2 linked regions of the Homo sapiens genome follow. The protein of the gene in region 2 purifies or fractionates together with the protein of the main gene of each other region. This does not show direct contact. Each region holds a gene or a part of one and is shown on either strand. Other genes may lie near its edges. The genes, in order: HDLBP and ZCCHC7.

Region 1 (3,816 bases), on a different chromosome or scaffold from region 2:
GGACTAGAGGACAGGGACAAATGCCTGGAAAGGAAATGAGCAGAAAGACCTAACCTAGAGACAACAGAGCAGCAGCCCAAGAAGCTTCTGTCCAGATTGAAGCAAAATGCCAGAGTGGGAGGCAGCAGCCCCACCCACCGTGGCCCAGCAGAGCTGACAGCCTCAGGCACCACCCGCGTGCTGCCAGGTACAGAACCTCAAGATCGGAAGCACAGCTCACAGGAAAAAGCTGCCTGTGAAGAAATGACTGCTCCACCCCACTTGGCTCATGGTGTATTAGATGGAATAGTCTAATTGCTAAACAATGACTTTTTTTTTTTTTTTTTAAAGACAGAGTCTCACTCTGTCGCCCAGGCTGGAGTGCAATGGCATGATCTCAGCTCACTGCAGCCTCCGCCTCCTGCGTTCAAGCGATTCTCACGTCTCAGTCTCCCGAGTAGCTGGGATTACAGGTGCACGCGACCACGCCTGGCTAATTTTCATATTTTTAGTAGAGACAGGCTTTCGCCATGTTGGTCAGGTTGGCCTTGAACTCCTGACCTCAGGGGATCCACCCGCCTCGGCCTCCAAAAGTGTTGGGATTACAGGCGTGAGCCACTGTGACTCACCTATAATGACTTTTAAGATTGATAATTATATAGAATAGTAGAGGGAAATAAAAGGCAATAAGGGTGAGGGGCTTAAAAGAGCTAAACTCTTGGGCTGGGAGCGGTGGCTCACAGCTGTAGTCCCAGCTACTTGGGAGGTTGAGGCACGAGAATCACTTCAACCCGGGAGGCAGAGGTTACAGTGAGCCGAGATCGCGCCACTGCACTCCACCTGGGGCAACAAGACAAAGACTATCTCTCTCAAAAAAAAGAACTAAACTCTCAAGATCAAGACTAAAAATTAAAAAATGTATGTGGGGAGGGAAGAGGACGTGGGAGCTGGAGGAGGCAGGGTGCAGGAGGGCCCTCCTGGCCTGGCTGGTGTGTGTGTGACTCAAAGATCCAAAAGGGAACAAGAAGCTGGGGAGGAAGAAGGGGAAGGGGAAGGGGAAGCAGCGGAAAACCCTGGGCGGCACATCCACAGTGGGAGCGAGGGGCGTGGAGGGGCTCTGCTGCCAGGGGGTTTGCTGTTTCTGGAAACCAGCACAACTGTGGCCACCAAGGCTTGCTAGTCTCCCACTGTGGGCAAAGCTGTGCTGGACACGCCTAGGAAGCAGACACCCCAGCAGGATGCCAGAGCCAGGAAAGACCAAGCCTGGGAAGTGTGTGCAAGAGGGGGTGTTGGGTGAGGCTGCCCTGCATGCCAGGTGGCAGGGCCCAGAGAGGGGATGGGGCTGCCTTTCATTTTGTTCTGAGTGAAGCAGGAGGCCATGAGGGCCAGTGGCAGGGGGGTGGCACTGCAATTTGGAGGAAGTAACAACAAGAGTTTACTAAGGACCATCTGGCAAGCACAACGGTGTTTGCAGCTGGGGCTGCAGAGAAATGTCCACCTGACCCCAAGAGGCCCAGGTGACAGGTGAATGAGAGCCCTTGGGAGCCTCAGAGAGGCCCGGGTGACAGGTGAATGAGCTACACCTGGAGGCGCCACTGATCAAGGACCCAGCTGGAGCTCCTGCTCATTTTCTGGAAGGAGACGCAGGAGAAAATGCTCCAGGCCCCAGATGATACATAGTGCCAGAGACCTCACCCATCTGGCAAGTACCGAGACACAGCCCAAACCTCAAGCCAGAATTAGGTCCTGAGAGACTTGCCACTCTCAACTTGGCCCTCGAACCCCCATCTAGGCACATCTGGTTACTGCTCCCAAGTCACAGGAAAGGTCAACAAGCACCTCTGCCCCCGACACGCTCCAACCGAGGCTCTCACCTGGTTCCCATCGTCCTTATCAGGAAACTGGATGTTCACGTCATGCTCCAACCGGATTTGGGTAATTACTGCCCCCTTTCTCCCGATAATCTTGGGATGGTATTTGGGGTCTACAGTGACACTCAGCTTAAAACTCCTTAAAGCCTACAAATGAAAGGAGCAAGAATGAGGCAAAGATTGAGCTGATCCACCCTGTGACTCCATTCCCCTTCCACCCTGGTCATAGGACACTGGAGATGCTGCAGTGTTCTGTAACCCGTGGTCCGGAATGGTCCGCCATCTCTCTGGTCCGACCTCTGCCACCTTCCATTATCTGCTAATAATGAGAACCAGGGAACTTGGCTGCTCCACAAGGAGGTCTATAAATCCTTCAAAAGAGGGCTTGGGACCACTTGCGAGGATCGTGCTCAGGAACTGACAGAGCTAGGCAGTGAGTCACGAGCTTGGGGCCCCGCTCTCCTCATTTGTCAAACAGGGATCTGATGGATACGCACAGAAATGCTCTGGATCTTTTTAGGACTGGGGCAGATGCAGACCAAGAAGAGGGGGCAGCCACAGCCCCTGAACACCCATGGCCAAAGGCTACAGGTATGACCTGGCTGCAGGAGACAACCCAGAGTCCACGCAGGGGTACACTGACACCATGTGAGGTTCACGAGCTCCACCCCATTCACCAGACTCGACGTGCTCACGGGAGGAGTGGAAAGCCAACCCCCTTAGCAAACCAGCACCCCAGCACAGTCTGCTCCAAGTTCCAGAACCCCTGCTCCTGTCTGCAGCACTCTGCTCACACAATCCTCCAAATGTCAGCCCTGCCAGAGGCTGGGCGTCTGCAGCGCTCCGCTCATACAATCCTTCAAACGTCAGCCTTGCCAGAGGTTGGGGGGGTTTCATCCCTGCTTACCAGGAAGTCATTCGCCCTTTGACCACCCTGTGCTAGAGGTTAGTGGGGGTCCCCGATGCTCGTCCTCACTGCATAGCACATGCTTGGGGGCCTCTCGCAACCTTGACCTTTCTTGTAGGTCTGAGGTACCACTCTGATTTGGTTTTGAGAGAAACTGCAAATTTACACGGAAGTCCAACTTTGTCACTTTTTTATGAAAAAGAGAAAGGTGCCATGCTCTTGGCTAGTTCCACAGCAAGACCCCTGGATGCTGACTGCGTCCTGGCACTGCCTGCATCTCACCTCCAGCCAGATGTCGCTGGGATGCTGGGATCCTGAAGAACTTCCCTAGATTCTGACATGTGCCCAAAGCTGAGCACCATGGCTCTGGGCAGTGCCCCGGCCACCTCCTGCTCACCCGGTCCTCCTGCTCGGCCTGTAGCTCCTTCACACGCTCCAGCAGTCCAGCCTTGGCCCGGTCCAAATTTGCAGCGAGGCCCGTGATGGCGATGATGTCAGACTGCAGCTCAGGTGCCGGGACATGTATGTTCACCTACGTGAAGAGGGGGCTGACTTGACGTTCAGGACCCCAGAGAACAGGAAAGAGTCCATTGGCCCTGGGACCCAGAAGTGGTGAGAGGGAAGGCCACCCGCCGTGAAGGGAAGTCAGTGCCCAGTCCGAGCAGGAGGAGGCAGAGTCAACAGGAAGTTGAGAAAGGACACTGGCACTCGGGAGAGGATGCGACAGGCCACTCCTGTGACATGGCCTCCCGGGAAAGGGGTCTACCTCAAACTCATCCATCATCTTGCGGATCCCACTTCCTTTCTGCCCAATAACGTAACGGTGAAGGTCAAAGGGCACCTCTACTTCAATGGTGACAGGAACCAATGCCTGCAGGGAGGATGGTCATGGTTAGGCCGTGGGAGCTGAGAGCAGAGTGACGTTGTAAGCTCAGCAATGGGGCTCCACGAAACACAAGGCAAACAGCCCTATGACAACAGCAATGTGCCCCACCCGACAATGCCACCAGGACCTTTAACTCAATAGAAAAGAATAGGAAAAGATTTGCATTAGGCTAA
Region 2 (3,816 bases):
TTATAAAAAAATGAACAAATTGCTAATACCCAACAACAGGGATGAATCTTAAAAATATTCAGGAGGAAATGAGACAGACACAAAATAGTACATAACGTATAATTCCATATATGTGAGGTCCTGGAAGGGGCAAAACAAATCTATCGTGAGAGAAGGCAAATCAGTGGTTGCCTCAGGTGGGGGATTGACTGCACATGTGCACAAAGTAACATTTTGGGATGATGGAAATGTTCTACATTTGATTTTTATAGTGATTACCCAGGTGTATACATTTGCCAAATTGAATCCTACTGTATTTTTACATAGGTACATTTTATTACATGTAAGTTACACCTCATTAGTTTCCTTTACGGCCCTGCCTTCTGTAACTTTTTTCCTTCTCTCCCTAAAATTGAGGTATTATCCATTCTTCTGAATTTACCATAGCATTTGTTTGGCCTTCTCTTACTCTTTCTTTCTCCTTTCGTTTGTCACCTTGTCCTCTACTAAGGCTATAAGCTCTTTACATCTTTCTTTACCCTCTAGCACCTTGCTCATTTAATCTTCCAATAGATGTTTGTTAAACGGAGTTGATTTCATACAAAGAAAGAATTACCAGCTACTGCTTTGATCACGGCTCTGAAATTTGAACAGAATCACAATCCCAGTTATCAGCAAGAACAACCCTATAAAAGCAGCTATGGGTTGATGACAGGCATTCTTAGGGCAGTCTTAATTTTACAATTCAGGGCAGTCCCATTTAACATTCTATGGCATTGGGTGGTGGACACATGGAAGATGAGTGTTCCTGGGCCGTATGGAAAGTCCTCTTTAAGGCGAATTACCTTGTGCTAGTTGCAAAGGTCTGGAAGATTTAATTCAGGTAAATTACACAACGTGACAATGTATATAATTCCAGTAATGAGAGAAAATTAGAATCAGAAATTCAGTACTAGAAGGTGCCACCATGGATGCCATTTATTCTAACCCATTGTCATACAGACCCAGAGATCTTAAGTATCCTGCCCAACACCACACAGCAAATTAGCGGCACAGTTAACTCTAGAAGCCAGATTTCTATCAAGTACCATACCCAGAATTTAACAAGTTGGAGAATTTGCTGTTTGTGGAAGTTCTGAGGAGTTGCCCTAGACAAAGCTTTCCTTGGGGTGAGATTTTGAGTTTAGACACAATAGGTAAAGATCAAGGGCAGGAAGCTGCTGTCATTACTAGGTTCAAATCAAAACTGGAACCTTGGAGCCATGGCAGGGACAAGAATTGCCTTATGTGTTCCTGGTGATGTCTTTGCTTCATATACCACTTGAGAAATACTGACTTGATCTATTGTTGAAACTTAGTTTGTATACTTGTTGATGAATTTTCTATAGTAAGAATATGAATATGCTATAACTTTTTGAGGAGTTGTTAGTACAGTTGACCCTTAAACAACACGGGTTCGAACTTCATAGGTCTGCCTATAAGCAGCTTTTTCTCAACCAAAAATGGATTGAAAATACAGTTTTCATAGGCTGTGAAACCCACGTATATAGAGGGCCAACTTTTTATATGTGCAGGTTCCACAGGGCTGACGGGAACTTGAGTGTGCAAGGATTTGGTTCTACCAGGGTAGTCTTGGAACCAATCCCTCATATATACTGAGGGACAACTGTACACAAGAATATTTTTGAATCCCACAGGATTGTTAAAACAATCTGAATAGAGTCGATCTCCCTCCTTCAAACCTTCCTTTTTTACTGTTTTCTGTTTATGTGTAAATTTGGAGAGTGGTAACAGTTGCCATTTTGCATTTCATTGGTTTTATATTTCATTTTTTAAGAACAATTTTAAGTCAGTCTTATAGTTAACATAATTTCAAGTGGTCATTTTGAATTTTAATGATGAAAGACATTGAGATACAAAAAGCAGCTTTGAAAGTTGTAGCAAAGCATGCTTCATACATGGATCCTTTGAATGAAAGAATAATAGCATGGATGGTTGATGAAGGAATAGAAGCTGCTGCTATTTAATGTATTCTTCACTCTCAGTACATGGATACAGCCTCCAAATGTTACAAAGAAAATAATCATCAGCACAGCATCTCTGCATACCTGTGGATTGGTCTTTTTGTAAAGCAGCCTCATGGTTTTCTTAGAAAAGTTTTTTATTTAAAAATATATCTCTAGACACTTACTCCTGGTAGGCCTGGGAAAATGTAGATTACTTCATGTCTCTTCAAAAGCCTTTCAAAGAAACAAGTCAAGCTTGATTTGTGTTTTTGAGATAGAGGAAAGTAGTAAGGTAGGAGGACAGAGGAAATCTTAGCTTTAAAGGGAGAAAAAGATCTTTCAGTCCTTTTGTCAACACTTTAGTTTCTGCATTAGTCATAGGTCCCTTCCCCCTTGGCCATGGGTGGACCAAAGGAATAGCAGCCATTTGCACGTTTGTGAAAGGACAGTGGAAAGAAAAGAAAATAGCTGATACAAGAAAATGTGGGAGATTATTTCCCCCACTAGGTTTTTACAGTTGTATTTTTAGATTAATCAGTGGTTTCTGGATATTTGGCCTCCTTTTTTTTCTTTTATTTTGCTGTTTTTGATGTTATAAAATACAGTGCTAAGAACCTAACCCTATTAGTGAGATATTATTCAGAGTCTAATTTTTTTATTGTTATAATGAAAGTCATGTAGAATGCAAAGCTAGTGGACACAGTTAATACTCATATTTGGTAGAAATACTTTTCCTCTACCAAGCTGAGTTCAAATTGTGGGCCTGCAAGTTAACTGATACTGGACAGGTTAACTGGAGAAAAGATAAGGTTTATTCACACTTGAAGGAGCACTCAATATCAGTAACTCTGAAGAAGAGTTTAGAGGGTTATAGAAGTAAGGGGTTATGCCTCTTGCTGTGGCACACCACAGATGCCAGCACTTTGGGAGGCTGAAGTGGGTGGATCTCTTGAGCTCAGGAGTTTGAGACCAGCCTGGGTGACATGGTGAAACCCTGTCTCTACCAAAAAAATTATAAAAATTAGCCTAGCGTGGTGGCAAGTTCCTGTAGTCCCAGCTACTCAGGAGGCTGATGTGGGAGGATTGCTTAAGCCTGGGAGGCGGAGGTTGCAGTGAGCCAAAATGGTACCACTGTACTCCAGTCTTGGCAACAGAGCAAGACCCTGTCTCCAAAAAAAACAAGAAGTAAGGGGCTATATACCAACTTAACAAGAGGGGGTAGCTTAGGGAGTCAAAGGACAGAAAGATCTCATTTACACAATTTTTTTGTTATGTCTCAGTGCCCAGTGTCAGTCATCTCCCTCCTGTGGATCCTCCTGGAGGTGTGAGAGGGTTGTGACAGCTGCCTCAGTAAAGCTCTGCTTTAGTCAGATAAAAGAAGTTAAGATTTCATTCTGCATCTGCTGTTGTATTTTTGGGCCCTTCACTGATTTTTTTTTGTTTTAATATTTGTATGTAGTCTGATGCTTTTCAATGTATTTTCACATACCTCATTTTATTCTCACAGGACTTTTTAGGCAGACAGGGAAAATACTATTATCCCATTTCACAGGTCAGAAAACTGAGACTCAGAGAGGTTAAGTATTTGTCCAGGGCCACATAATTAATAACAGAGCCAAAATAGGAATTTCAGGTATTCAACATTTCTCAGTGTACCTTTGGGGTCCAATTTGAGTACTCATAAATTGTGTAATCTATTGTCAATCTATAAGTCCTTTAAAAGTGCCACGGTTAAGTAATAATTTATTTGTTTTGTAGGAGAAGATGGTATAAACTGGTCCATCAGTGACAAAGACATTGAGGTAAAATCAAATTGTTTTTAAAATTCAGA

The links.
Region 1: the proteins of ZCCHC7 (region 2) and HDLBP purify together in Homo sapiens (affinity purification with mass spectrometry, with the first as the bait; one large-scale study listed by BioGRID). This does not show direct contact.

Annotation. Positions count from the first base shown.
Region 1 is NC_000002.12:241,231,967-241,235,782, forward strand, and holds part of HDLBP (vigilin), read right to left. Parts: intron 3,629-3,816; coding exon 3,524-3,628; intron 3,290-3,523; coding exon 3,155-3,289; intron 1,998-3,154; coding exon 1,854-1,997; intron 1-1,853. UniProt on the Homo sapiens protein: Appears to play a role in cell sterol metabolism. It may function to protect cells from over-accumulation of cholesterol.
Region 2 is NC_000009.12:37,298,445-37,302,260, forward strand, and holds part of ZCCHC7 (zinc finger CCHC domain-containing protein 7), read left to right. Parts: intron 1-3,743; coding exon 3,744-3,787; intron 3,788-3,816.